Linked DNA regions of Homo sapiens. The protein of the gene in region 1 interacts with the protein of each later gene in a pairwise test. Each region holds a gene or a part of one and is shown on either strand. Other genes may lie near its edges. The genes, in order: BATF2 and DEDD.

Region 1 (3,578 bases):
AGCCGAGATCGAGCCACTGCACTCCAGCCTGGGCGACAGAGCCAGACTCCATCTCAAAAAAAAGAACTTTGAGTCCAGGGCCAAAACCACATTTTTATGCAAAACACCTTTGCAACTTCTTCTTTCAAAGTGTCCAGAAAAGGGGGTGGGGGACTGAAGGAAGTCGTTCAATTTATTCAGCCCTGTGAGATGTGGATATAAAATTCTTTCTGCATTTTTACCATTACTGTCATCATAAATGGTTATTTAGAACTGCACATTGATTGTGTCTCAGGGGTTCTCAGAACCGGCGTTCAGCAGAACAGAACTTAATAAATGCTGATTCAGGGATGCAGAATCGAACACACTCATGCTGTCAACCTGTAAAACAATCCCCTGAATCCTCCCACAGTGCTCGTAGGGGCGAGTTCTGGGCCCTCAAAAGGGCAGTGGCAATAAGCAATCTAGGACAGAATGACATCAAGGTTGCCACGGGAAGGCCCTGTTGGGATTTGCACAGAGAAGGGCGGCGGAAGGGTGTCCAGGCAGAGGAAACAGGAAATGTGGCCGGGAAGCAGAGTTCATGTGAGGGTCAGGAAGGGAGGGGAGCAAGAAAGAAGGCGAGAGAGAGGAGACCGGAGGTCTGAGCTGCAGCCACTACACAGGCCTGGAATTCTACCACAGGGAATTTGGTGGGTGCCTCTAAAGGGCTTTAACCTGCAATTAATGACATGGTTGCTGAATGGCTCCTGTGGGCAAGAGAATAGGTGGTTTGGGGGACACACGGGTTGGAGGCCCGTGCATATCCCAGGTGAGAAATGGCACCGGCTCAGGGCACTAGTGGTGGGATGACAGCAGGCGGATCTGAGCCCCCTTCAGAGGGTGGGACAGGGGAGACTTGGTAGGTGGTTATGAAGGGCTGGCCAGAGAGTGGCCAAGAGACCCCACTTGGCTATTCCAATGGTGGTGGCATCTTTCTCCTGAAGTTGAGGACCCTGGAAGGGGCTAAGGCTCATGCGGGGCCCCTGACACTGGCTGAGGTTCCCCTCCCCGCCCATCTGCTTCTCTGCAGCAGCACGAGTCTCTGGAAAAAGACAACCTCGCCCTGCGGAAGGAGATCCAGTCCCTGCAGGCCGAGCTGGCGTGGTGGAGCCGGACCCTGCACGTGCATGAGCGCCTGTGCCCCATGGATTGTGCCTCCTGCTCAGCTCCAGGGCTCCTGGGCTGCTGGGACCAGGCTGAGGGGCTCCTGGGCCCTGGCCCACAGGGACAACATGGCTGCCGGGAGCAGCTGGAGCTGTTCCAGACCCCGGGTTCCTGTTACCCAGCTCAGCCGCTCTCTCCAGGTCCACAGCCTCATGATTCTCCCAGCCTCCTCCAGTGCCCCCTGCCCTCACTGTCCCTTGGCCCCGCTGTGGTTGCTGAACCTCCTGTCCAGCTGTCCCCCAGCCCTCTCCTGTTTGCCTCGCACACTGGTTCCAGCCTGCAGGGGTCTTCCTCTAAGCTCAGTGCCCTCCAGCCCAGCCTCACGGCCCAAACTGCCCCTCCACAGCCCCTCGAGCTGGAGCATCCCACCAGAGGGAAGCTGGGGTCCTCTCCCGACAACCCTTCCTCTGCCCTGGGGCTTGCACGTCTGCAGAGCAGGGAGCACAAACCTGCTCTCTCAGCAGCCACTTGGCAAGGGCTGGTTGTGGATCCCAGCCCTCACCCTCTCCTGGCCTTTCCTCTGCTCTCCTCTGCTCAAGTCCACTTCTAACCTGGTCTTCGGAGCTGGGTTGGCCCCTTCTTTGGGCTCAGGAAGCAGCCTTAGCACACGGGCCTCTCCTCCCTCACTACTGGGTGCTGCCCTGCGTGGCTGACCAGCTGGCCCAGGATTTCACAGTCGAAAAGGAAGCCACCACTGATGCCTCCCACTGTGACAGGCCCTGTCACCACCAATATCTTATTTCAACCTCACAGTTGACCTGAGAAATCGAGATTATCACTCCACTTTTTCAGACAAGGAAACTGAGGCTCAGGGAAGCCAAGTGACAAGTCCAAGGTCACGAAGACTTTCTTGGAGCCCGAAACACCACCCTCTGCTCCTCCTTCTCCTGTCCTGGCCCAGGCATCCTAGGGGCTGAAATCCTGGAAACCGTGGGCTGGTGTGAGAAGGTTTGCATGCTCAGAGCAGAGAAGGGCTCTCCCCACTGCTTCGTGATTCCAGGGCCAGAGCCATGCAGTCCCAGAAACCCCAACCTAGCTGGGGCAGGTCCAGAGTCCAAGCCCTGGTGGGTAGAGGCCAAGCAGAAGCCCTGAAGTGGACTCTTGCTTCCCCTAGTAGTGTTTTCAGTGCCAAGAAGCTGAAACTGTGAGCTGGAGTTGGGGAGAGGTCTGGAAGAGGACCATCTGGGATTTCTACAGCCTGGGTACCCATAGCCACACCAAGGCTTCTGGGAGATTCTGCAGGGTCAGCTTTCCAGGCTGTTCCCAAATAGCTCCCTGCCTCCCCACTGCCCCTAAAGCCACAGCAGAAGAGCCATTCATCTCATAAACAAAAAGGAAGAGGAAAGAATGAGGAAGGACCCTGTGCAAGGTTATTTGCAGGCAGGGATGGGCTTGTACCTGACAGCACCCACCCCTGTGTGGCCCCCAGGCCCTCATCACCCTCAGACCCCTCCTAAGCAGTTCCCTCATTGCTCTTTGGACTAGGCTGACAGCAGGAAGAGCAGGGCCCATGACCGGGTGGAAGTTCAGTTTTGGTGTCTGCTTCAAGAGGGGGTTTTACACTCTGATTCCAGGACAAGCACTCTGAGGCGGGTGGGGGAGAGAAACCCTGGCTCTTCACCCAGGTTTCACACACATGTAAATGAAACACTATGTTAGTATCTAACACACTCCTGGATACAGAACACAAGTCTTGGCACATATGTGATGGAAATAAAGTGTTTTGCAATCTTTTCTGCTTTGCCTAGTTACTTAAACCTCTCTTTGTAACCTACAGAGTCTTTGAAAAAAGAGAGAATAACAGAGATGGGCAACCCCTCATGAACCAGCTAATTAATCTCCCTCCAATACTACAGATGAGGAAACTGAGGCTCAGAGATGAGACGGACTTGCGCAGGTGTATTAGTCAGTGTTCTCTAGAGAAATAGAACCAATAGAGTGTGTGTGTGTGTGTGTGTGTGTGTGTGTGAAGACAGAGAGATTTTTTTTTTAATGTTGTTTTTTTTTTGAGATGGAGTTTCACTCTTGTCACCCAGGCTGGAGTGCAATGGTGCAATCTCGGCTCACTGCAACCTTCGCCTCCCGGGCTCAAGTGATTCTCCTGCCTCAGCCTCCCAAGTAGTGGGGATTACAGGTGCCCACCACCACACCCAGCTAATTTTTTCCTTTTTTTGAGACAGAATCTCGCTCTGTCGCCCAGGCTGGAGTGCAGTGGTGCAATCTCGGCTCACTGCAAGCTCCGCCTCCCGGGTTCACGCCATTCTCCTGACTCAGTCTCCTGGACTACAGGCGCCTGCCACCATGCCCGGCTAATTTTTTTTTTTTTTTTTTTTTTGTATTTTTAGTAGAGACAGGGTTTCACCATGTTAGCCAGGATGGTCTCGATCTCCTGA
Region 2 (3,814 bases), on another chromosome or scaffold:
TTAGGTAGGTTAAGATTGGTGTTGCAGAGAACTTTTAAAGTTACAGTAGTCCAGGTGAGAGATTATTGTAATCTGAACCATGGCAGTGGAGGTGGAAAGGTAGGATAGATTTAAGAAATATCTAGAAGTAGCATTAACAGGAATTTAGGATTGATTGTGTGATTGGAGAGTGTGACCAGAGAGTGCACAGTATAGGATGGTACTGTCTGGTGGAGCAGTAAGTATGAGTGACTTGAGTCAAAGTTGTTGAATTTGGGAATTGATTAATGGCTGCGTCATTGGTATTACCTGTAGCCCATAACGATGGAGGAACTTTGTGAATCAAGAGCCAAACTATATAACGAATGTGGAGCTGTGATTGGTCATTGATAGGGGATTGGTAAATGACATCCATGAGGAAAGCTTAGAAGGTGGTATTGCCAAGGCCAGGTACGGTGGCTCACGCCTGTAATCCCAGCACTTTGGGAGGCCGAGGTGGGTGGATCACCTGAGGTCAGGAGTTCAAGACCAGCCTGACCATCATGGTAAAAACCCATCTCTACTAAAAATACAAAAATTAGCAAGACGTGGTGGTGCGTGCCTGTAATCCCAGCTACTTGGGAGGCTGAGGCACGAGAATTGCTTGAACCTGGGAGGCGGAGGTTGCAGTGAGCCGAGATTGCACCACTGCACTCCAGCCTGGGTGACAAAGTGAGACTCCATCTCAAAAAAAAAAAGTTGATATTGCCAAATAGGGTGAAGATCAAGGGAGTACAAATGGCATAGAATTACAAGAATGCTTATTGTAGAAACTTAATGTTTATTTTAAATCCATGAGTTTTGGTAAATATTGATAAACTTTCTGAGCAGTTATCATTTCTTGATGTGGTTGGATTGTAGGAAAAATGTGGAGGGATGATTCTGGGCTGCAAAGGCCAAGGATGCTTGTATCTTTGAAATGTTTCACAACCATTTATATAAGGGTTACCCGTGATTTTCTCATTGGATTCTTAACAACTCTGAGGTGTATATTCATTCATCCCTGTTTATAGATGACAGCACTGAGAATCTGGAGTTAAGTGACTTGCTTACGGTCACACAGCTACACAGCCTTTCAGTGATACAGTCAGAATTTAAACTAGTTCTTTTTTTTCCGAGATGGGGGACTCACTCTGTCACCCAGGCTACAGTGCAGGATTATGGCTCACTGCAGCCTTGAACTCCTGGGCTCAAGTGATCCTCCTGCCTCAGCCTCCTGAGTAGCAGGGACTACAGGCACATGCCACCATGCCTTGCTAATTTTTTTCTTTTTTGTAGAGATGGGGTCTTGCTATGTTGACCAGGCTGATCTTGAACTCCTGGCCTCAAGCCTTCCTCCCACCTCAGCCTCCTGTGCAGCTGGGACTACAGGCGTGTACCACCAAGCCCAGCTAATTTTTTCTTTTTTTGTAGAAACGGGTCTCCCTATGTTGCCCAGGCTGGTCTTAAACGCCTGGGCTCAAGTGATCCTCCTGCCTTGGCCTCCCAAAATGCTGGGATTACAGGTGTGAGCCCCTGTGCCTGGCCAGTGTTTATTTTTAAACAAACACTTCAAAAATTTAATAAACATGTATAAAGCACTATACTGTGCCAGGCATTGTTAGCAACTGGGAATATGGGAATGCATGAGACTAGTTCCTGCCCTTGAGTGTCTCATCGGTTCTTTCCCTGCCCTTTCAGTACGGTGGGGATTGCAGCTGCTGAGCAGGGATTCTGGAAAGCATTGCGTACCTGAGCCCCCAGCATGGCGGGCCTAAAGCGGCGGGCAAGCCAGGTGTGGCCAGAAGAGCATGGTGAGCAGGAACATGGGCTGTACAGCCTGCACCGCATGTTTGACATCGTGGGCACTCATCTGACACACAGAGATGTGCGCGTGCTTTCTTTCCTCTTTGTTGATGTCATTGATGACCACGAGCGTGGACTCATCCGAAATGGACGTGACTTCTTATTGGCACTGGAGCGCCAGGGCCGCTGTGATGAAAGTAACTTTCGCCAGGTGCTGCAGCTGCTGCGCATCATCACTCGCCACGACCTGCTGCCCTACGTCACCCTCAAGAGGAGACGGGCTGGTGAGGAAGTATTAGGGGCTGGAATCAGGGAAGAGTTGTGGGAGGCCAGGAAGGAGCAGCATAGGCGTCCAAAGGGGAGGACACATTGATCCTGGGGAGTACTTAGAGTAAGTTGTGAGGCCCACTGGGGGTTTGGACTGACAGAAGGGAAGGGTGTATATTTTCCTGAATGATTACTTCTCCTCCTACAGTGTGCCCTGATCTTGTAGACAAGTATCTGGAGGAGACATCAATTCGCTATGTGACCCCCAGAGCCCTCAGTGATCCAGAACCAAGGCCTCCCCAGCCCTCTAAAACAGGTGAGAAGACATTAACTCCCCCTGCTTTCCATCATCAAGTAAAAGGACACTGATCCCATCACATTCTGGGCTTTGCCAGCTTAAATGAAAGGATGCTGTGCGCCCACATCTTGCCCCATAAAAAAAAAAAATCAGGCGAGGTGACATTTCTCCTAGGTCCTGTATTTGCTCTCACATGTCTTGTCTTTTTTTTTTTTTTTTTTGAGACAGAGTCTCCCTCTGTCGCCCAGGCTGGAGTGCAGTGGCGCAATCTCGGTTCACTGCAAGCCCCACTTCCCAGGTGCACGCCATTCTCCTGCCTCAGCCTCCTGAGTAGCTGGGACTACAGGCGCCCGCCAGCACGCCCAGCTAATTTTTTGTATTTTTAGAGACGGGGTTTCACCGTGTTAGCCAGGATGGTCTCGATCTCCTGACCTCATGATCCACCCGCCTTGGCCTCCCAAAGTGCTGGGATTACAGGCGTGAGCCACTGCACCTGGTCTCACATGTCTTTTCAAGTCACATTTTTCCACTGCTTTTAGTGCTAAGTCTAAATGATTCCTTCCTCATTCCAACAGAAGTGTTTGAATTTCTGCCTTTACCCTACTGTGTTTTCTTCCCTTTTACTTTCTGGTCAGTGCCTCCCCACTATCCTGTGGTGTGTTGCCCCACTTCGGGTCCTCAGATGTGTAGCAAGCGGCCAGCCCGAGGGAGAGCCACACTTGGGAGCCAGCGAAAACGCCGGAAGTCAGTGACACCAGATCCCAAGGAGAAGCAGACATGTGGTGAGGAAGTTCAAGGGTTCCAGAGATGGAGCAGACTTGAAGGAGAATATAAAGAACTGCTGGGACACTGGGCAGTTTATGCTATTCAGTGTGAGATTCACTTTGATTGCCATTGCAAAGTGAGGCTGAATGGTTTGGTGTCTGGTGGAAGAACTGCTCTTTATGATTGTGGCAGGGTACATTTCAACTCTTGTTAGTTAATACTACATCACAGGGATGTTGTTATGACATCCTTATTGTAGGATGAGCCAAGTCGAGTATTAAAATGAACTTCTATGCCTGGTAATTAGGAAAATATCTCCTATAAACAAGTTGCTACCTGTGAGTAATGGGAACAGTGCTGACCTCGGCATGTCCCGTTTAAGGGAACCTCCTGCATTCAGGCAAGGATTTCAGAGATACATAGAAATAGTCCTGGGGAAGAGGTAGAGAAGCTGTCAGGTGATATTCCCTACTTTTTTATTCTGTTGTGCTTTTCAGTTTTCAAGCTTGGCTTGTAAACTCATCCCTTACTGTAACCTCTTCTGCTCTGTATCTTCTGTTTCCAACAGACATCAGACTGCGGGTTCGGGCTGAATACTGCCAGCATGAGACTGCTCTGCAGGGCAATGTCTTCTCTAACAAGCAGGACCCACTTGAGCGCCAGTTTGAGCGCTTTAACCAG

Evidence for each region.
Region 2: the proteins of BATF2 (region 1) and DEDD interact in a two-hybrid assay, tested with the Homo sapiens proteins (one large-scale study listed by BioGRID and IntAct).

Annotation. Positions count from the first base shown.
Region 1 is NC_000011.10:64,987,286-64,990,863, reverse strand, and holds the end of BATF2 (basic leucine zipper transcriptional factor ATF-like 2), read left to right. Parts: intron 1-586; exon of another isoform or gene 587-721; coding exon of another isoform or gene 722-790; intron 791-1,051; coding exon 1,052-1,735; 3' UTR 1,736-2,919; downstream 2,920-3,578.
Region 2 is NC_000001.11:161,122,411-161,126,224, reverse strand, and holds part of DEDD (death effector domain-containing protein), read left to right. Parts: intron 1-779; exon of another isoform or gene 780-1,698; 5' UTR 1,699-1,762; coding exon 1,763-2,087; intron 2,088-2,278; coding exon 2,279-2,386; intron 2,387-3,003; coding exon 3,004-3,150; coding exon of another isoform or gene 3,151-3,240; intron 3,241-3,701; coding exon 3,702-3,814. UniProt on the Homo sapiens protein: A scaffold protein that directs CASP3 to certain substrates and facilitates their ordered degradation during apoptosis. May also play a role in mediating CASP3 cleavage of KRT18. Regulates degradation of intermediate filaments during apoptosis.